6 linked regions of the Homo sapiens genome follow. The protein of the gene in region 2 interacts with the protein of the main gene of each other region in a pairwise test. Each region holds a gene or a part of one and is shown on either strand. Other genes may lie near its edges. The genes, in order: MTUS2, SLIRP, EXOSC8, AMOT, DMRTB1 and CCDC102B.

Evidence for each region.
Region 1: the proteins of SLIRP (region 2) and MTUS2 interact in binary tests that used the Homo sapiens proteins (3 or more experiments, as listed by UniProt).
Region 3: the proteins of SLIRP (region 2) and EXOSC8 interact in a two-hybrid assay, tested with the Homo sapiens proteins (one large-scale study listed by BioGRID).
Region 4: the proteins of SLIRP (region 2) and AMOT interact in a two-hybrid assay, tested with the Homo sapiens proteins (one large-scale study listed by BioGRID).
Region 5: the proteins of SLIRP (region 2) and DMRTB1 interact in a two-hybrid assay, tested with the Homo sapiens proteins (one large-scale study listed by BioGRID).
Region 6: the proteins of SLIRP (region 2) and CCDC102B interact in binary tests that used the Homo sapiens proteins (3 or more experiments, as listed by UniProt).

What each region holds. Positions count from the first base shown.
Region 1 is NC_000013.11:29,502,339-29,506,447, forward strand, and holds the end of MTUS2 (microtubule-associated tumor suppressor candidate 2), read left to right. Parts: intron 1-654; coding exon 655-868; 3' UTR 869-3,609; downstream 3,610-4,109. UniProt on the Homo sapiens protein: Binds microtubules. Together with MAPRE1 may target the microtubule depolymerase KIF2C to the plus-end of microtubules. May regulate the dynamics of microtubules at their growing distal tip.
Region 2 is NC_000014.9:77,711,103-77,714,600, reverse strand, and holds part of SLIRP (SRA stem-loop-interacting RNA-binding protein, mitochondrial isoform 1 precursor), read right to left. Parts: intron 1-3,498. UniProt on the Homo sapiens protein: RNA-binding protein that acts as a nuclear receptor corepressor. Probably acts by binding the SRA RNA, and repressing the SRA-mediated nuclear receptor coactivation. Binds the STR7 loop of SRA RNA.
Region 3 is NC_000013.11:37,006,950-37,010,114, reverse strand, and holds the end of EXOSC8 (exosome complex component RRP43), read right to left. Parts: intron 3,141-3,165; coding exon 3,044-3,140; intron 2,059-3,043; coding exon 1,938-2,058; intron 1,387-1,937; coding exon 1,280-1,386; intron 932-1,279; coding exon 816-931; 3' UTR 501-815; downstream 1-500. Other genes in the region: SUPT20H (transcription factor SPT20 homolog), read left to right, coding at 306-443. UniProt on the Homo sapiens protein: Non-catalytic component of the RNA exosome complex which has 3'->5' exoribonuclease activity and participates in a multitude of cellular RNA processing and degradation events.
Region 4 is NC_000023.11:112,774,832-112,778,331, forward strand, and holds the end of AMOT (angiomotin), read right to left. Parts: 3' UTR 46-3,500; downstream 1-45.
Region 5 is NC_000001.11:53,457,967-53,462,198, reverse strand, and holds the start of DMRTB1 (doublesex- and mab-3-related transcription factor B1), read right to left. Parts: upstream 2,801-4,232; 5' UTR 2,746-2,800; coding exon 2,169-2,745; intron 727-2,168; coding exon 554-726; intron 1-553.
Region 6 is NC_000018.10:68,895,580-68,899,079, reverse strand, and holds part of CCDC102B (coiled-coil domain-containing protein 102B), read right to left. Parts: intron 1,862-3,500; coding exon 1,652-1,861; intron 1-1,651. UniProt on the Homo sapiens protein: During interphase, forms fibers at the proximal ends of centrioles to maintain centrosome cohesion. During mitosis, dissociates from the centrosome following phosphorylation to allow centrosome separation. Contributes to CROCC/rootletin filament formation.

The sequences.
Region 1 (4,109 bases), on a different chromosome or scaffold from region 2:
TTTCACCCACCAGCCTTTATCGGCAAACATTAACTGAGCATCTGTTACGTGCCTAGCACCAGCTGGATGCTGGGAGTTCAGCATGCAGAGCCTTGGCCTCTGTCCTCCGGAGCTCCCAGTCTAGCAGGCAGACACAGACCCCTAGAGCAGCATTTCCAGCAGGGGAGGACACCTGCCATCGTGGAGGCACAAGCCTGGGGCAGGGAGGCCAGGAGAAGGCACCCCCAGCTTCCTGGCAGTCTCAGGAAGGCCCGCGGCTCTTCACTGCTATTGTGCTGTTGTCATTGTCAATTGCCAGCTGCGCGGCTGTCTCTCCTTTCGGAGCTTCCGGGCAGCATACCCACTCCAGCTCTCCGCTTCCCTCCTTTCAGTCGCTGGCCTTTGCTCTGTCCAGTGGACAGCCAGTGCCTCCCCTGACCGGGCAGAGGGCCTGTGGGATGATGGGTATTGGCCAGAGAGGCTCTGGGAACAGATGTGTCATTGGGCCAAATGGAAATCATGATTCAACCAAAGTTCTTGGTCACTGGGTCACCCTGGTCCCTGTTCTCCCTGCGGTCATCATGGCCTCCTCCCTTTGCCCTGCACCATTGTCCTGACCTCAGGTTCAGTGTCCACTAGCATGATTGCTACTTATTTGTCATTGTGCCCATGCAGACAGCTGTCGGAGGAAAATGCTAACCTCCAGGAATATGTTGAGAAGGAAACCCAGGAGAAGAAGAGATTGAGCCGAACCAATGAAGAGCTGCTTTGGAAGCTCCAAACTGGGGACCCGACCAGTCCGATTAAACTCTCGCCCACATCTCCCGTTTACCGCGGCTCCTCCTCGGGGCCCTCCTCTCCGGCCAGAGTCAGCACAACACCCAGATGACGCCACTACACGGCCTGCGGGAGCTCCGGCTTCTCGTCCTCCGGTCTCCACCCTGAGGGAGCACCGACCCGGTGCCGCCGGAGCTGGCCCTGTGCGCATGCTCAGTAGCTGCGAATGCATCCTAGGCGCGTCCTCCTCTGATCCCCGTGTAAGACTGCCCTGGTGTCGGCACTTAGGAATGTGTAAATGGTAAAGTCTGATGTGCAAACGTTTTACCATAGTTAGAGCCAAAAGAAAGACACTTGCAATTGTTCTTGAGCAATGAACTTTCACTGCAGAATTTCAGGTTAGTTACAAAAAGCTCAGTTTTCAATATACATTGAATAATCATTGTGTACTGCACCGATATGTGTGTATATTTAGATATACGTATATACACATGCTGCGGTTCTGAATTTCATTTTTTATAACATGAAGTGCTGACATATTTTAGTGAAGGTCAGCAGTTTTCTAACTTGTGCCTAAGAATTATTGGGAAATGAAAATGCATTTCTATCTAGCTTCCCAGGAATATTTCTACCCAAAATAGAAAAAGGAAAAAAAAAAAGATACAGAGAAGAAGCGCCTTTCAACTCACCACCAAGTGGTACTCTCTTTAACACGAACACCAGCTATTTGTGAACGGTAACTGCCTTTGGAACAATCAGCTTCTCAGTCAACATGATGTGAGATCACTATTATTCCATTCGCAAGTTTTAATTATTGATACTCCTGTCATGAGCGGATAAGGGAGAGCAGTGGGAAACCCTAAGGGGGTTTAGCAGTTTTGCAGATGTTACCCATGACAGTGACTCATCTCTGATAGTCTTGTAAACACAAGTTTTGCTTTTTTCCTAAATGGCATCTCAGACTCGGTCATTAAGCTATTGTTGCACCCTCCGGAAAACATGGCAGAGCATGACCTTTGAGTAAGAGTGAGGATGACCTTGCAGATGACTGTGCCCATTCGCGCTCCATCCTCATGAAGGAAATTGCTGCCAAGGTCTGTATTTTGACCAGGCACAGAGGGGGAACATCACTCCAGCTTTCCATGTGGTTCACTCTGATGCGATGCTGTAAATGATCAACTCTTTGAAATAGGACCCTCAGGCCCCCATTTCCTAGCAGCCCCCCTTCAGTTTGGTTCTACAACTCAACCCCTTCACTGCACATTGAGATGGCTCAGGGGTTCTAGCAGGGGCTTCCAGAAAAAAAAAACACCATTTCTGTCCCGGGGGACCAGTTCTGAGCTGTGCTAGATCATCACACGACCACCCAGAAACCCACTTGCACTTCCTGCTGGATGATCAGGCAACGCTGCTGCTGACCGTGCTCCCATCTTAGACCCAGAAGGTTCTCCCAAACAGAGGAGCCCAGTGAAACAGCCAGCCAGGGGGCACCAGCTCCTGGACTGGCATCTGTCTCTAAAATGGTAGAATTAGGATATGAACAGTACTCATGTAGTGGTGTGGAAGATTAGGAGCATGATACACAAAAGGAAGAAGTAGTTTTAACAGATATGGTGATGATGATGATGCCCTTGTTTCCTGTATGTGACAAAGACCCTGCACTTTCTCCCTGAGACCCCCCCAAAATTGTCCTGAGCACAGGCCTGTCTTTGAGCGTGCCCAAGGCGAGAAGAACCATGAGGGGGTCCTGCAGGGGCCGGAGCCATGGAACGGGGAAGAAAACAGCCCGCGGACGGGGTCGGCTTGTCCAGGGCACGCCTGCTCGGCACACGTGTTGCCAACGTGAAGGCAGACATGGTCCCTGGCCCTAGGATGAGTCCACGCTGGGCTTCCGGGCCTCAGGTGCATCTCCAGCCAACCTCCAAGGGTCTTGCTCCTTCTGGGGACGTACACAGTAAATCCACATGGAAACACCACCATTTCTCTTTGCTTTAGTGGCTCTGCATGATACTGTGATATTGAGTTGGGCATTCCATTAGAGTAGATCTTGCCACATTGACTAAATACACAAGTATTTATTCTAGTAGCAGGCACAACCTGCAAACACAAATTCAGTTACAGCTTAGCTGTCCGAATTAGGAACCGCTTACATAGCCGCACCTGCTAAATGCAGTTACACAGCAATACTGACTTCCGTGTGATGCTAGAACGTGGTACAGTGTATTAGGCTGCTGTGGTCAGAGTTGTAGCATCGTTAGCACTAAGTAATTCCTCATTAGGTGGACTTCGGTGAGAGCTTTGCCCTAACCTGCCCTGACCTTGGGTACTTGAGCTAATTTCCACGTGGCCCTGGCTTCGTGGTTTGTTTGTTTTTTTTCTTTTGTTACGGACACCCATCATGTATGGCTCCTCATCTGAGCCATCACCGCTCCCGAAACACATGGGGCGGCAGCTGCTGTGCCTCCTTCTCAATTCTTCCACCCCCCCACACCATCAGAATTCGGATTTCTCTCCACGTGGCGTCTGCCTCTGTCCCCTTCCAGGCTGGAGCGACGTTTCCACGTTCGGATGCTGCAGCCTCTGCACCTGCCTCAGACAGACCCACCAGATACCACCTGTCTCTTCGTGGCATTTGGGAGATGCGTGGGCGGCCTGCCCCCCGACCGCCGCCCCTGCCCACCACATGCTGGGACAAGGTTCTGGCTGGATGTCAGAATGGATGGGGGTGGGGGCAGCCCTGGCCGTGATTAGTTGAATGAATGGGGTCACAACATCCCTTTTCCTGCCCCTACAGTTTGTGTTGCATATTTGTGTTTAAAGCCTATTAAAATAAACTTGAGGGACTTTCTGCGATATCTACTTGATGTAACTGGAGACCTGTCCCTCTCAGGCTGGGGATCCCAGGCAGGGAGGCAAGGGGGGTGGCGTTTGCAGGCTGGACCCCTTTTCTGTGTGTGCCGGGGTTGGGTGATGGTCCGTGAGAGAAGTCTTGTAGAGACCCCCTCTCCCCTGACTCCGCAGGTCCCAGGTCCCTGCGCCCACCCCTCCAGCCTGGGGGCTTGAGCAGCCCCTCCCCTGGACTTGGGAGCTCAGTGCCTCTGCTCTGCAAGGCCGGGTGCGCTGGAGTTGGCTGGAAGGAGGACATAAAAGGTCATTCACTCATTTCAACCTGAAAGTGCTTGCTCCCCCCATCCCGATGGCCTTCAGTTTGGGCTGCAGCCGGTTTAGCCAGCTGGACCTCGAAGTGTCCCACAGGTGTCTGGCACCATCACAAGGGAGACAGCTGGGTTCGCAGGTTCCCTGTGGTGGTTTTGCAGGGTCTGTGGGAGTGGCAGCTATTTCAGCGAGATCAG
Region 2 (3,498 bases):
AAAACATAGGCCAGGTGCAGTGGCTCAATCCCAGCACTTTGGGAGGCTGAGGTGGATGGATGGCTTGAGGTCAGGAGTTTGGGACCAGCCTGGCCAACATAGTGAAACTCCATCTCTACTAAAAATACAAAAATTAGCTGGGTGTGGTGGCCCATGCCTGTAGTCCCAGCTATCTGGGTGACTGAGGAAGGGGGATCACTTGAACCCAGGAGGCAGCGATTGCAGTGAGCTGAGATCACGCCTCTGCACTCCAGCCTGGGCGACAGAGCAAGGCTGTCTCAAAAAAAATAACTCAGTCCAGGTGTGGTGGCTCATGCCTGTAATCACAGCACTTTGGGAGCTGAGGTGAGTAGACTGCTTGAGTGCGGGAGCTCGAGACCAGCCTGGGCAATATGGTGAAGCCCCATTTCTACAAAGAGTACAAAAAATTAGTCAGGTGTGGTGGCACACGACTAATCCCAGCTACTCAGGAGGCAGAGGCAGAAGGATCCCTTGAACCCAGGAGTTCAAGCCTGCAGTGAACTTGATTGTGCCACTGCACTCCAGCCTGAGTGAGAGAGAGAACCTGTCTCAAAAAAGGAACCAGGATTTCCAACTAGAGTACAATGAATGGAACAAAAAAATATTTTTTTTGTCATATTTTATTTTGTTTTACCAACATCAAAGCCGCCTTTTATTTAAATCTAAGATCTATTCTTTGCAGGTCCTATTTTATTTATGGACCAATAAAAATCTATTCATTTTTTTGCAAGGAACTTTTTATTTAAATGCTCTTGAAAAAATTGAAGTTTTCAAACTTACAGAAAATATTTCATGTCCATAATACATGTGCCCAACTTTTCTATTCAACTATATAAAATTCCATTGCATCAGTGACTTAATATCTAATCAATCCCAGTGATGAACATTTAAGTTTCTTCTTCTTACTTGACATTAAATAATGCTGCTTTGGAATATTCTTGACCACACATTTCTGTAGGATAAATTCTTAGAAAAGTAACCGCTAGATCAAAGCAAATATAAATTCTTAACTTTGGTATTTTGCCAACTACACAACAGAACTGAAGGTACCAGTTGAACTTCTCAACAACTTGAGTGCCAGATTCCCTACACCTTCACCGGCACTATATATAACTAATCTGTTAGTCTTTGGGAGTCAAGTAACATTAAACCAAGAATTAAGAATTTAAGTTCCTTTATGTTGTTATTTTACCACAGCCCTTACAGTGCTGCAAGGAAAAAAGGGTTTCAGTGAAGTGTGTGTGAACTCTATGTACTCACATCACACCCTAAAAAAGCCCACAGAAAAATACAGCCCAGGATAAATTTATAGGCTGATTTCTAAACCCTCACAAGAAAGCAAAGGAAATGTAATTAATATAAAAATATTGTTTTATTAGTTATAAATCTAAAAAAGAAAATGGTACTCAATGAAGATAAAACTTAAAATATCCTCTGCCAATTATTAGAAATCTCAAGTCCTTATTAGAATACTGTAGTAGGCAGAATTCTAAGATGGGCCCCATGATCTCCATGCATTCCCCATGTTACACCCTATATAATCTCCTCCCCTCCTTGGGTGGAGGAGAAACCTGACTTGCTTCTAACCAAAAGAATACAGCGAAAGTAATGGGATGTCACTCCTGTGATTATGTTCTGTATAAGATGCCATCTTAAGCAGACTGGAGAAGCCCTTGCTGGCTTTAAAGAAGCAAGCTGCCATATTGTAAGACAGCCTACAGATAAACTAGGTAACAAGGAACTGCAGGGAGTTCCTAGGTGAGAGCAGCTCCCAACTCAGAGCCAAAGGTCAACAAGAAAACAGACCTCAGTCCTACAGTTAAAGATGAATTATGGCCGGGCATGAAGGCTCACACCTGTAATCCCAGCATTTTGGGAAGCCCAGGCGGGCGGGTCACTTGAGGTCAGGAGTTCGAGACCAGCCTGGCCAACATAGCGAAACTCCATCTCTACTAAAAATACAAAAAATTAGCCGGGCGTAGTGGCGGGCGCCTGTAGTCCCAGCTACTCAGGAGGCTGAGGCAGGAGAATGGCGTGAACCCAGGAGGCAGAGCTTGTGGTGAGCCGAGATCGCGCCACTGCACTCCAGCCTAGGCCACAGAGTGAGACTCCGTCTCAAAAAAAAAAAAAAAAAAAAAATTAGCCGGTCGTGGTGGCGCATGCCTGTAGTCCCAGCTACTCAGGAGGCTGAGGCAGGAGAATGGCTTGAACCCAGGAGGCAGAGGTTGCAGTAAGCTGAGACTGCACCACTGCAACTCCAGCTTAGGCAAGGGAGAAAGACTCCATCTCAAAAAAAAAAAAAAAGGAATTTTGCCAACCACATGAGGGAGCTTGCAAGTCAGTCTTTTTCCCCAGTTGACCCTTTGATGAGACACACCACAGCCCCAGCTGACACCTGGAATATATAGCTATGTGAGATCCTAAGGAGAGGACCCAGCTAAACTGTGCTCAGCTGTGAGAGATGTGTTGTTTTTGAGCCATTACGCTTGTGGTATTTTGTTATACAACAATAAAAAAACTAACACAAATACCTATGATAAAGCTTTTTCACTTTTTAATCAAGTATCACTCAAAATGTAATCAATAAAGACTGTAGGCCGGGCACAGTGGCTCACGCCTGTAATCCCAGCACTTTGGGAGGCCAATGCAGGAGGATTGCTTGAAGCCAGGAGTTCAAGATCAGCCTGGGCAACATGGCAAGACCCCCATCTCCACAAAAATAAGCCAGCACAGTGGCTCACACCTGTAATCTCAACATTTTGGGAGGCCGAGGTGTGCGGATAGCTTGAGCCCAGGAGTTCGACGAGACCAGCATAAGCAACATGGCGAAACCCCATCTCTACAAAAAATACAAAAATTACCCAGGTGTGGTGGTGCATGCCTGTAGTCCCAGCTACTCAGGAGGCTGAGGTGGGAGGATCACCTAAGCCTGGGAGGCAGAGGTTGCAGTGAGCCATGACTGCATCACTGCACTCCACCTGGGGTGACAGAACAAGACCCTGTCTCTTAAAGAAAATGAAAATTAAAAAAATTTTCCAGTCTGGACAGTATGGCGAAACCCTGTCTCCACTAAAAAATACCAAAAAAGTTAGCTGGGCATGGTGGCACATGTCTATAGTCCCAGCTACTCAGGAGGCCAAGGCAGGAAGATCACTTAAGCCTGGGAGGCAGAGGCTGCAGTGAGATCAGGCCACTGCACCCCTGCAGGGGGACAGAGCGAGACCCTGTTGCAAGATAAGAATTTTTTAAAACACTTTAAGCTTTTTTTTCAACAATTTTTGTGAGTGTATAGTAGGTGTATATATTTATTTGGGTATATATTTATATATATTTATATATTATTAGGTGTATATATTTATATATTTATATATATAAATATGTATATTTATTATGGAGTACATGAGATGTTTTGATATAGGCATGCAATGTAAATTAAGCACATCATGGAGCATGGGGTATCTATCCCCTCAAGCATTT
Region 3 (3,165 bases), on a different chromosome or scaffold from region 2:
TTGCTATAAACCATCATTATACAACAAAATGGTAACTGAAGTTGCTGAGTTACTACAATATAGACTGGCAGGGCAAAGTAACAAATAATTTTGAAGTTTGCCAAGAATCATTTTTAAAGCCCTTAGCAGGCTTCTGTGCCACTGGTGCTGTTTGACTGTGCATTGTCTCAATGTGGTATAGTCCCTTTTTGTTATCTTGGTGCTTTCTCCCTTTTTCAGTTGTGTTGTTTCGTCACTCAGGAAAAGCACCTTTCTACACCTGCCTGCATTTAACATAACTCGATTTTTTTCCCTCCCTTTTGCAGCAGTTGCGATTCTTGCAGCATCAAATGGCTATGGCAGCAGCAGCAGCACAAACAGCTCAGCTACATCATCATCGGCATACAGGCAGCCAGTCAAAAAGTAAAATGAAGAGAGGCACGCCAACCACTCCAAAATTTTGAGTCTTGCATTACTTTTTGTTCCTTTTTTAAAAACACAAGAGCACTGAATCAAAAGAATTGAGTTTCTACTTTTTGTTTTTTTTAATGTGTCAGTATTTTACATTGCTAGATGTACAAACTTTATACAGAAGCACAACCTTATCATTTTTAAATAAAAACAGGGAAATGGTTTAACAAACTAGGGTTGGTTTGCCTAAGTCATTGCTTTTTAAAAATGGTTTCACTATACATAATATATATGGAAGTGACCTAAGAAATAATAGAAACATCTTTCAGAAGAATGTAGTTTGATATTTATTTAGTATAAAACGTTTGTGCACAGTGTTAACAAATACAATTTTTACAAATCTGTTTTGAAAATGTGGTGGCTGTTTATTTGGGTTTCATACTCTTAATTACTTCATCCATCAGTTTTTTAACTTCTTTGTGTCTTGTAACTGCTCGGCTCATACAGTCCTGAAGTTTAGCTCCAGTTAGCCCACTTCCACCTGAAAAATTATTTTGCCAATACTTTTAATCTCAGTTATCATTCCTTTTCAAAAAACATTAATGTCATGTCAAATTATAAAACAAAAAAATTGGATAATGTAAATCAGGGTACAGTCTCAAGATCTACAAGTTAGTTTCACAAGACCTCCAAGTGATTCTAATGTATGTCTTAAGTTTAAGAACCACTGACATATACCATTAAGATGGAAGAACATTTTAGGTAGCTAAGAAACTATACTAAAATTAGGTAAATAAAATATCCCATATTCTATTTGGCCCTCCCTAATTTAAGGCTCACACTGAGTTTTCATCTACATATGTTTAGGACTGAAGTGGCGGGAACATGCCTGGTTTGTGAAGACAACAGAGTTTGCCTTCCTCATCCATTACTATTGTTAAGGTTCCTGTTGCCAGATGTTCCTCCTCTCCAGTAGGGTCAACTATAAGCAAAGTGCTATAAAAAGAAAAAAATATAAGTTATCAATCCATGGAACAAATTTTACTTTAAAATACTAAACATACTATCAGCCTCCCAAGTAGCTGGAATTAACAGGCACACGCCATCACACCCAGCTAATTTTTGTGTTTTTAGTAGAGACAGGGTTTCAACATGTTGGCCAGGCTGGTCTTGAATTCTTGACCTCAGGTGATCCCCTGCCTCAGCCTCCCAAAGTGCTGGGATTACAGGCATGAGCCACCATGCCCGGCCCTGCTCTTCTATTTCTGAACGTGCTAAAATCCTTGGAAAATATTGAAGATAGCTTCAGATAAATCTTATAGTGAAAGAATTGGAAATTAACATTACACAGGTATAAGTAAACCAAGGAACAGGTAATAATTGTGCAGTGACTAGAAATAATTGTGCAGGGACAAGTAGAAACTCAAGTGTCCAGGGAAAACTAGGATGTAGGGTCACCATAGCACTTCCTAAAGAGTTAGAATGCTGAACATCAATTACCCTAATCTTAAATATAGAAAATTTTAAAGTAAGTTTGATTAACTTACTCATCAAACACAGCAAAGGAAGTTGCAACTGGATGAGTTCTAATATTCAAATAACTTTTCTTCTTTAAATTAACTTCTGCTAAAGCAGTTTCTTCATTTATAGTAACTTCAGGCAACTGTACTAAGAAAAGGCAAATTTGTAAAGTAAGTAAGTCTCTAAGAAACAAATGATTTCTAAGCTTTTTTTTTTTTAATTCACCTTTCCCTCTATTTAACTTGCCCAGAACATTTCTTTTTAAAAAGCACCTTACAGCCACTAAGGTAAATATAGAGGATATACATTGCTTTTCACAACATCTGACATTCCTACCTAGTGCTTATTGCATAATTTTTTTTTAAGTTTAAGAAGTCAATGATTTTTTTTTAAATTTATATCTGCCAGGTACTGTTTTAAGCATTTTCATATTTTCATTGTATTCACCTAATCAATACTCTTACAAAGTAAGTACTATTATCCCTATTTTATTATAGATAAGGAAACTTCAGCACAGAGTGAGAGAGCCAGGAATCTACTTTAACCAGTCTATTATAATATTTTGCTGACTTCATTTTCTACCTCCAATTCACTTAACCACTCTACTATAATATTGCTGTGCTAACTTTATATTCCACCTCCAATTATTTGTTCCTACCAATTCATCATTCATCAATGATAGGGAATATGCACAAGTTATTGAAATCTGTAACTAATCAGTCAACCTAGACTCCTTGCTAAGAAACTTCCCTATTACTATGGCCTCACAGTAAAAACAACAGAATCCATTCTACTTCTTTTGGCAATATCACATAAAGAACTATGAGGATACTGGCAGATCTTCACCAATCACCTAGCCAGAAGTTACAACTCTTGTCTCCTTCTCCCACCAATATTAACACTATTTTGGAAAGGACTGAAGTCCTAACTTAAGTAGATGGGTACAGTCAAAGCAGCACTCTAAAGAGCATTCAGTTAGAGAATATACAACTATCAACTATATTTGGAAAGTCATGTCAGCATTACATTCATTAATTTGGAAGCATACGAAAGCAAATGTACATTAAAAGTTTCACAAAACAACATTCTAACCCATGAGTGGGAATATTGCCTTTTTTGTAAGGCTGCTTACCATTTTTTAAAGCCGCTAGCAAAGCAAATGTGCAGGCATCCAAAATGTTTCCATCGTAGTCGAGGCAAATGAGATCACAGTATAGAACCCAGACAAGCTAAAATAGAATTAAACACAAAAGG
Region 4 (3,500 bases), on a different chromosome or scaffold from region 2:
TAAAGCCTCTGTCGGGTAAACACCAAAGCATTTTCCACACGGTACTGCATTTTAAAATAGCTAACTTTATTGTCAGTGAAAAGATAGGCACAAAGTGGATTTAAACCTGCTTAACTTTATTGGAACTAGCTCAGTTGATTACAGAATGGGGTCACAATCATTAGGGGACCACATACATTTTAAACCAAAGGCGATTCTTCTCTAGCCATCTGCCAACCCCAGCTATCCATTTTACAAACACATGCCATTAATCACAAGGGAGGCCAGAAGGAGGTTTCATGGCTCCATGTAACCCATCGTTGCTACTGGAAAAAAATAAACAAACTCCCGACACTTGTCCTACTGATGATGGATGGCACTTGGAAGACATATTTCCAAGAATCGTGGCAGGCTGAAATTGGTGGCAATTAGCCCACAGCTGATACCTTCCTTTGAAAACATTTTCAGTAAGAATGCACACGTTTTAAGTAACATATTCCATATGCACATAAGCAATTGAGATAATAGGAGACTGTGTAGCTAACAGATATGAGAATATAATTGATCAAAGTTAGTGCATATGTATACACTTTAAGCTGCCGCATTATGAGGGTTTAGGCTTGTCATAAAAAGTAGTTTGCACAATCAATCAGTTTGTTCATTTTCCAATTGTTATACCCACCCAACAGTGTAACAACAAAAAGAGAACATGATGGGTCTCTGGGTATCTTTCCTATGGCAGATGATGGCAGATATTTTAGGTTCCTGCTGTCCTATTACCTTGAAGCTCAAAAGCAGCATTAAAAGGAAATCCTTCATTAAATCAACAATCAAGATACATGATTTTAAAAGAAAGCTCAAGCTACTTTTTATTTCAAAAAAAGACTGTTAATAGGAGTTTCATATCAAGTAAAGTTTGTTCTAATGAAGTTTTTCTATACATGGAACACTGGGGTACAACTGAATTAGAAGGTCCTCAGAGATCACCAAGCAGTACAAGCTAAGACAACCTGGTCACCCTCCTTTCCTGAGGTGCCGGTAAAATGCACAGATAGGTAGGAGTCCAGAAAGATCCCCCAAATGTTATATCCACACAACTGTGAAAAGGTGGCTAATTGAGATTTCTCCCATAAACTTGAATTTTTGGAACAAAAACTAGTGGAGATCTTCTGAAAAGGCTGTATCTATCTTCTGCATAATATACTGACATACTCTTCTTCCCTCTCTTGGATGTACAATGTTATTTTAGCAAATTATCGGGGATTGGAAACTGAACAGAGAAGAACTGTCTCTGGTGTGAGAGGGTTCTGGAAAGTTCAAAATAGTACTCAGCCAAGAACTTCTTCCTTTCCCCAAAACACATGAGTCTAAAGAGATGGCTACCACACAATGTGGAATGTATGACATTTGTCACCTTGCAGAATGTGATTAAAATCATGGCTCCCAGAGCCAGCAAAAAGTCTGCCAATGTGTTATAACCATGAAAGGAGTAGGTGAAAAGTGTTTTTTAAATTATTTGGATAGAAAGTAGCTCTCCTGAAGTTTGCTACTTGCTGCTTCTACTATTTGAGTGTTTTTTTCTCCTTATGACTAAAGGGTAGTATGAAAGAGTCTTAACACAACTGCACTTTTAATTTCTATCTGAGATTCACTTTATAACTGAGGACTAATGTGTATGTAACATGATTACCTCATTATTGAAAATGTGAAAGGACTAGCTGAAAATCACATCACCCTCCTTTATGTCTCTACACACACACAGGCACACACACAAAATAATTCCTTTGGAAGATAATTAGGAAGGATACCATTCCTATACTCACAGAGGAACCCCAAAAGATTATCTAAGATACCCAATCTCCTAGAAAGAAGTGGGATTGGTTTCTCAGGGGGACATTTATGTGACTCTATGTTGAAATGCAGATCAGAAAAGGGAAAACCTTTTAAAAGGCACTGAAGGAGAGGCAAGACAGAAATTCAGTAGTTTGTCAAGACTGGACAAGCTACTCCAACCAGGTACATTTTACAAGATACATATTCCCTGGACCATGAAGATGCCTTTTCATAAAATGGAATTTAAAAAAGATAAAGAGTTTCCCAAAATAAGCATGGTGATTGGCATAATGGTTAGCTGTGTTGTATGACTTTCAAAAAGTCACTGAACCTCTCCAGTTCTCAGATTCCTCATCACTAAAATGAGGAGGTAGGGCTATATTGCTAAAGTTCTTTCCCACCACTATGGCTCATGATGTAATATATCAGGCCTACTCTTCTATTAATCTGGTTTCTAACTAAGACATCCCAAAACCTCTACCCCCAACCCTTACCTAACACCCCCCACTTCCCTCACCCTCCCTATACCCCTTAAAACTGATCTTAATGATGCTATCTGCAGATTTCTCACCTTAATGAAGGGCAGACAGGTGACACAGGGCAGGGACCTGTGGCAACTGGCATCCTTCTGTGTCCTTGGAGGCAGCCCTATGGCAAGGCTTGGAGCCATTGCCTCCTTTGATCTCTACCCACATGCACATTTCCTGCTGCTTCCCAAAGGTATTCCAAGATGGTGTCACTGACAGTGAGAAGAGGTAGTTGAGGATACTGCTGCAATCCACCTCTCCCCCGACTGCAGCATAGTACTTTGGGTTTCTCAAGCTATTCCCTTGGAGGTGATAGTCAAAAATGCCTTTTAAGACATATGCTTAGAATTTGACAAACAAAACAAGTTATTTCAAAGTAGTCACCAGAAATTCAAAGCATTCAACCTGTCAACAAAGATCCTTCCTCACTTTGCAAATGATTGGCAATTTGAGACTGGAGACCCAGCCAGTGAATCTGTGCTGTAGAAGAAATAAACACTAAGCTGATTGGTCTTACTAAATGCAAGCAAGCTGTGTTCATGGCTACACACAAACCATGGAAGTCTGCATATAGCACCCCATGCAACTCTCCATCAAGGCCTCTGATGGTCTAATTCCCTAAGAGAGAGGAAGTTGCGCATCACTCAGTTAATGTACTCTCCCAGCATCTGAAAGCAATATATTAATTATCCAAATGCATAAATTACTCCAGAGCATATATATGAATGTATGAACCTCCAGGAGGGAACCAAAAGAATCCATTTCCAAAGCACCACTGAAATGAAGACAAACACAATTCCCTGGGGCAGGGTAGCTGGGAAACTGGAAGAAAAAATTAGCTCCAGTACCCTTCTGCACCCCAAAACTCCCTACCTTTTTTCCAGCTTACATAGCTCCTGAAACTATTCCCTTTTGTAAGCCTGAGGTGAGTGCTTTCTCCAGCTGCTGCACAGGATAGTAACTATACAAAACAGCACACACTCAATTCTCTCTAGCTTCCCACTTCCAAACTACGTGTTATACACTGTCTTCCACACATACTGTGCTCTTCAATAAAAAATGATCTAGAATATGGAAAATTTAAACAAATTTAAGCACATTGAAAACGTCGATGTATAGCCACCTGTTAACAGTCCCAGTATTCGTATAAATTCAAACAAT
Region 5 (4,232 bases), on a different chromosome or scaffold from region 2:
CCTTTATTAATCTTATAAAAGGATTAAATTTCATTCTTTCAACAGGTATTTCCTAAGGTGTCAAGTGTTTGGGGGAAGGTTTCCGTATTTTTCATGACTCCGCTCAAATGCCACCTCCTCCTGAAAGCCCTCTGCAGTCTCAAGTGTGCTATACCTGTGGGCAGGGAGCCTACCTCTGGTCCTGGCTCTGCCCTAAATTTTGTGGTCCCAGGAAGGTGATATGCCCTTTCTGGAGTCCAGCAAAATGAAGGGCCCTTCTAGCATCAGCATCAGTCAAGGAAGGGGTCATCCTGAACGCTCAGAGCCTTTCAGCCCACTGCCCTGAAAAGCACAGGCCATAGCCCAAGCCGAGTGGTGCAGACTGGTCCACACGTGTGCTCCCAGAGACACACACACTGTGCCTGGGCAGTGCCTAGTCCTCCACCAGCACTCGGGGGCTGGCATGGCGTGGGCACAGTTTATGACAGCTGGCTTCCTGGGACTGAGGATCCATCAAGGCAGCAGGGGCAGACTGGGTGGAGGAAGCTGGCAAGAAGTGAGGGGTGGGACTCACCAAGCCTCCGCCTTGGTACTGGCTGCGGGACACATGCCGGAAGCCCTGCTGCAGGGGGACGCCAGGAGGGGCGTCCAGGTAGCCCAGCGGGAACGGGCAGTAGGGGTGCATGCTGGAGCCACCAGGGTACTCAGGGCCCAGTGCACGGTCCGGGTTGATGTTCAGAGGGCGCACTAAAGAACGCAAGCAAGGAGGGAAGTGTTAGACACCGCTGGGAAAAGCATCCGCAGGGCGGCCCAGGGCGGCGGGGTCATCAGCGCTGCCGTCCAAGCACAGAAAGCCCACCCCGCACTTCCTTCCGCTGGGCCCTCACTGCATCTCCATCCTCCAGCCAGCCCCACTGCTCTTGGAAAGTCCTCAGCACGGCCATCAAGCCCGCTGTGGGCCGGGGCCGCCTCCAGACCTCCCCGCTGCCCCACACACCGTCAGCCCGCACTCTGCCTCTCTGAGGCCTCAGTGCCGAGCTCCTCCTCCTCCTCCGGGTCACAGTGAACCCGGCCATGGCTCAAGCCCTGGACACTGATTTGTGTGACTCTTTGATCAACCCTGTCCCTCCCACAAGGACAAGGTCCTTGAGGGCAAGAAATGTGACCCGCGTCCTCCATCACGAATGCCTGGCTCATGGTTCGGCTCAGCCCTGCTTGTCTGTTGAGATGGAAAAAAGAAAGGTGGCTTCTCCTAGATCTGCAGTTTCAGGCCTGTGACCCTGTCAGATGGGACGTTCCCTGGGGACCTAGATTTTCCTGGAAAGTCAGGGGGGCGGGACGAGCCTGCGGGAGCCTCCGGACCAGTGCCCTGGCACACAGAGGGCAGGAGCTTGTCCAGCGTGACCCGGGCCCCCGCCTCGGCCTGAGCCCGTCCCACCACACCACCACGGGGGAGACACCAGGAAAACGCGTCCGCACCAAACCCCGGGGCTTCTAAAGCTTCAAATGTACATGTGACTTGAAACTACTTCAATACCAAAAGCTCCAAGGCACAGGGAACAATGTAATTTATGTACAAGGTGAAGGGAGAAAAGAAAGGCAACATCTTTACTGACCAACTGTTCTCGTGTGTGGAGTAAAGAAGCAGGCTCCCCTCACCTGCACGTGGGGAAACGGAGGGAAGAGGTGCGCAGGCGCACTGGGCCAGGGCGGAGCTGAGGGGAGGAGCCTCCCGACCGCGAACCGGGAGGGAAGAGTGCGCAGGCGTCCTTGCGCTAACGTGCCGGCAGGAAAATTCTGTTATTCTGGAGGAGGAGCCTCCAGCCCAAGGAAATGGCGGGAAGAGGTGCGCAAGAGCAGTAGGACTCGGCTCCTCGAAGCCTCCCCCGGAGGAGGAAGCACTGCTAAGTCGACTGGACGCCATTTTGTTCTTGCATGCCGGAATGGCACAAACTACAGCTAAATGTTAAAAGCCCTCTGAACCGCCCATTCCTTTCTGTTTCTCGTTTCCTTTTTGCGAAAAGTTACCCAATCCAAATCCCTGTTCGAAGAAGGGTTTCTCAAAGCGGAAGGTCCGTTACCCGTGGAAAAACTTCTCTCCACCCCGAACCCCTATGCCAGCTCCCCATCCGGGCTGGCCTGGGCTGCCAGCTCCGGGAGTCGACCGCGGGACCAAGGCCACGACTTACCAAAGTCGGTGAACAGTGGGCCGGGCACGGTCCGCATCGGCCTGCGCAGGTCTAGGGGGCCAGGGTAGCCACTGCCTGCGGCCTCCGCCCCAAAAGGGGGTCCCGCAAGGCTGGGCATCGCCACGGCGGCTCGCTCGCTCGGCTCCACGTGGCTGCGGCCGCCCAGAACCGGCTGGAGGGCTCTCGGGCCGGGGTTCCGGCCCCGCGGGGGCTGCTCGAAGAAGCAAGCGGCCGCGCGGCCCTCGGGTCCCGGGTCGGCGTCTCCGGAGGGAGTCCCCGGGGACAGCGGGCGGAGGCTCGCGGCCGGGACGGGGACGGGGGCGGGGGCGGCGGCCGCAGCCCCGGAGGCCTGCTTGGGCCCCTGCGCACACAGGGCCGCCTCCTGCTCCTCCTCGGCGGCCTGCGTCTTGAGCACCTTCTGCGCGGCCATGATCTTCTGGCGCTCGGAGATCAGGTAGCACTTCTCGCAGAGGCACTGCTTCCAGCGGCATTTGCCCGCGTGTCCCTTGACGGGCACCAGGAAGCCATGGTTCCTGCATCTCGAGCACTTGGGGGTGCGCACCATTTTGTCGGCCATTGGCAGGGTCAGCCTTCGTAACACAACCACCACCTCTGGGAGCTGCAGAGCAAGTGGCGCTGGGATGAGCCGCGCCCCACAAGTCCCTCGTTCTGGGGACATTGGATACACTTGTAACAAAGCGGCTCGCAGTGTGTCCCGGGAACTGCAGCAGGAACCTTGCATTTTCCCTCCTTTTGGGGGGTGCACAGTTTGGAGAGTTTCTGTGCTTTGGGTAATTAGATGCAATGGATTGGGTTGAATAAATTCTTCATGGGATGCTATTGCATGTATGTCATTTAGCTTATCTGAAGTCTTAGGCATGTAATTTTCCAAACTCTGTTCCCGCCACCGACGGAAGGTATTTGTAACTTTATGAAAGGCGGAGTGATATTCAACGGTCCACAAATTTAAAACTCGGGAGGAATGTAGCTCTCGGTGTAGAAAAATACTGTAAGAGGCAAACTGTATTTCTTCTCCCCAAAGCTGCTCCTTCTGTGGCAGTTCACTTCTCTGCCCTGCAGAGATGCTTCCAGGATATTCCAGAATATTCTCAAGAGTTCAGTGCAGTGTGATGGTTGCTCAAGGGTATGCCCTTACAGTAATTCCCGTTTCTTGAGAGTCTTGATGTAGGAATGCATTTCTGGATGTTGATGCCTTCCAAAGTGAGCATACTTAGAATATTTTAAAGTAAAATAGACAGAATATTGTAGCACTAAGCCTGGCATAGTGTCCTGTGCCTGTAGCCCTAGCTACTCGTGAGGATCACTTGAGCCCAGTAGTTGGAGACCAACCTGAGCAACATAGCGAGACTCCTCTTTCTAAAAAATTAAATAAAAAATTCTGCAAGACCCCTCTTTCTAAAAAATTAAATTAAAAAAAATTTCTAGCACTAGCTTCAGTGATTGCTTAACCTCATCATGAACTTCGTTATCCTTGTAAAACAACCCAAATCTTGGGACATCTGAAAAGTTAGCACAAACGTCATAGTTTACCCGAGGGCATTAATTGTTTTTTTTTGTTTTTTTTTTTTTTTTTGAGACAGAGTCTTGCTTTGTCACCCAGGCTGTAGTGCAGTGGCAGGATCTTGGCTCACTGCAACCTCCGCCTCCCAGGTTCAAGCGATTCTCCTGCCTCAGCCTCCTGAGTAGCTTGGATTACAGGCGCCCGCCACCATGCCCAGCTAATTTTTGTATTTTTAGTAGAGACGGGGTTTTCGCCATGTTGGCCAGGCTGGTCTTGAACTCCCGATCTCAGGTGATCCACCGGCCTCGGCCTCCCAATGTGCTGGGATTACGGGCGTGAGCCACCGCGTCCGGCCATTAATTCATTTTTTAAAAACAAATTTGTGACACCCTGAGGCATCTCTCTCTCTCTCTCTCTCTCTCTCTCTCTCTCTCTGTCTCTCTCTCCCGCCCCTCCCCCCCACCACCCCACTGCCTCCATTTCCCTCCCCTCCCCTCTCCTCCCTTCTTTGTCCAAAAAAAGGAAAAAATGGGCCACTAACA
Region 6 (3,500 bases), on a different chromosome or scaffold from region 2:
CAGTCTTCTAAGTGATCAGCATACCCACTGACTTAGACCTTTGAGGATCCTCTCAGTTTCCAAGTTCTGCTTAGTCCCAGCCCAAATAACTACATTGTCAAAGAGACCAGGTCTGGACTCGGTGTGCCCTGATGACAGGTTACGCCAATGCCAGCTCCAAACAGGTCTCAATTTTTCCCGAAAGATATACTTTATATTAATACATTTTGATACAACTAGAAAGGTGCCAAAATCAAATATAATCAATTGCTTCTTAATCTGTGTCCCCTTCCACTTTATTCTTAGCAATCACTATAATGTTTTATTTATAAAAATTTGTGTGTTTGACTCCCTATATAGACTCTAAGCCCATGCTGGGTGGGGATAATGATTCATTGATTAATATTCTCATTACCTGCATATAGAACAGTGACTGACACAGAGAATAATACGAATAAATGTTTGTCTTGTTTGAATAAATCAAATAAAAAGTATTTCTATAATCAAACCACAGTCCATAATTGAGATAATTCTGCACTTTTTAGAGTAGAGATCTCCAAAATAAGATGTCTACAGATTTATCAGTGTACATATGTCAGAATCAAATACATTATTATGGATAGTTTATGAATCAATATAATAGAAAATTATGGTCACGGACTATAACATTTAACTTTAGATATTTGCATTGCTAGGTCATGAAACACTAATACAATTTAATCTTGCATTTGCAATAAATCCCTAGATTCATGAAAGAATGATGAAATAATATGGAATTCAATTTTTCTGGCCATTTAGGTTTTAGAGCTTATGTGAGTATGAATGACTTAAATATCTCAAAACTATGAACTTATCAAATTCACCTTTTAAAACTGTTAAAGAAACTGAGTGAGAAATAGAATTGTGCATTAAGATGCTATATATAATTGAAAAATAGAAACAAGGTAAATATAATTTACAGCACATTGACACGAACCCACATTAAAACTATAAGACTGCCATTAAAAGCACATTTAAAAATCTGTAAACTATCAAAAAAATGTCCGTCTATAGCATAAACTATATCTACTGGCTTGGGGATAAAACACATCCAAAATTAAATTTCCCAAATTTAAATTCTGAATGTTATCCTGGTTTTAAGATTTATACCACAGGCTGGAAAAATTATTTGAAAAATTATGCATTTCATTAGCTCAAAAATAATCGTTCTGAAACTGACAAAAAAGAACCAGAAAGCAGTGAGTTTCAGCTAAATTTAAATGTTTATGCAGATACTTACCATAGCTACCAGCAAATGCTTATTGTATAGTCGCTTGAATTAATGAAAAAATCTTTATTGGAAATAAGATCATTAGCTTAGAAAATACTGAGACAAAGCTTTAATAAGAAACAAAAAACCAGAAAGTTCTATTTCTTACTTCATTTTTCTTCTTCCTTTTGGAAATCTTGAAACTGTCTGAAGATTTGTCATATTTTAACATTTGACACACTTTGTTTCAGATGCATGAACGTTATTTTACATCCTAGTGGGCAAAAGAGCAAGGAGTATCAGGTATTAGCTGGCACAAAAGGAAATATCCAAATGTGGAGGCGTGTACGAGTGAAGACAGACTCTGCGTAGGCATCAGAGTGAGATTAGACAGTGAGAATTTGCTCCAAGGAGCACCCATACCTGGTTTTTTTCTTGCAGATCAATTTGTGACATCTTGAAATCAGGACTTTGAGAGTTTGCACTTAATCTATTTTTCTTATCCAAAAGCTCTTCCATTTCTTTCACCTGGATCTTCAGCCTTCTATTTTCTCTCTCCAGTCCCTGCTTTTCTCTTTCAAGTATTTCCCTCTTGTCCCACTCCGAGGTATTTTCAGCTTGCAATCTCTCTAGCTACACACAGAAAACACAAAGAAGCAGCATGCAGCATTTGCAATTGCCAAAAGATAATGCCACCCACAACCAGACTCCCATTAAGAAAAGTTCATGGATATGTCCACTGATACAATTTTAAAAAGAAAATTCTATTTGTTTGAAAACATGAGAAAAATACAAAAATCCTAAGATCAGGCCAAACCGTAGATAAATATACTTTTCCTCTTGGTTCATGTAACTATCTCTACAGCCATATGTACCATATTTTTCAAATATATGTGTCAAGTGAAGAACTGCTGCTCTTGGGAACATTAATCTCCACTCTCAACTGATAAACATTCTCAGTGGAGAAGACACAATATCATTTCATGGGCAATTTTGATTGGATATATTTCATTTATTCATTCACTCAATTATCTAGGGAATAGACAGATGCTATATGGATCTCTCTATCTCTATCTCTCTATCTCTCTATCTATGCAACATTTGCAGTTGCCAAAAAGTAATGCAAAAAGTAATTTAATTTTATATTGAAAAAATATATATAATTTATCATTTTATATTTTAAAATTTTACATTAAAACATTTTCAACATTAAATTATATAAAATTCAAACTATACCACAAATAAAATCGTATTGGGACATGGCCACGCTCATTTCTTCACACTTTGCCTATAACTGCCTTCACACACAATGGGTAAGTTAAGCTGTTGAGAGAGAGACCATATAGGTAGTAAAGCCCAAAATAGTTACTTTGTGGTCCTTTACACTAAAGTTTTGTCAACCTCTGCCCTCTTCCCATGGTTCTCAACCAAGGCTGCATGGTATATCAACATGAGGAGATTTTTATTACTATCAATGACCAGAAGCCTACTCTAGAAATTCTGATTTAAGATAATTTTAATATCTCCTTTGGTTTTTGTTATTTTAATGTCTTTAAGTTTTAAAGAGGCAATATCAAATGTATTTATTTTCTGCAGTTTTATTACATCTAAGTGCTTATTATTATGAGATGAAATTATATTCGTCTGCTATAATTTTTCTGTGGACATTGTAAGTAGAAGTGAATAGTAGCTTTTTTGTCTCTAAATTATAGTCCTGAGCTATGCATTCTAATGTGACTTCACCATTTATTCTCTGGATAAGCTTAGTCAGGTAACTTCATCTACCCCAATGTAGACAACTTATTTAATCTGACAAGGTTTGTGAGAAGTGAAATTAATCAAAGTAATTAGAAAGCACTTTGTCTAGCAATGTAACACTTAAAGGAGAAACACTGTGGTAATATAAATTTTTTAAATGTATGTTTCTCTCATATATTTAGGCATATGGATATCGAGACATCAATGTAATTTATTGCATAAATCTATACAGCAGAGTAACTCTTTACAGTAGAAAATCTATTAGAATCTCATCCTGGTCCCACCATTTACTCATTGTCTAATTCTGGACAAGAAATTTATTATCTTATTAAGTTTTCTTACTAGTAAAATTAGTATGATACCATACATATAATACCATAAATACAATAGCACAAATACCATATTTGTGGTATTGTAGGGACAGAAGAGGGTCAACTACTCAAAATTCCTTGCAAACTATTTAGGATGATTAGAGTATGAGGCATTTTAAAAATATCTCAAAAGGATAAAAATT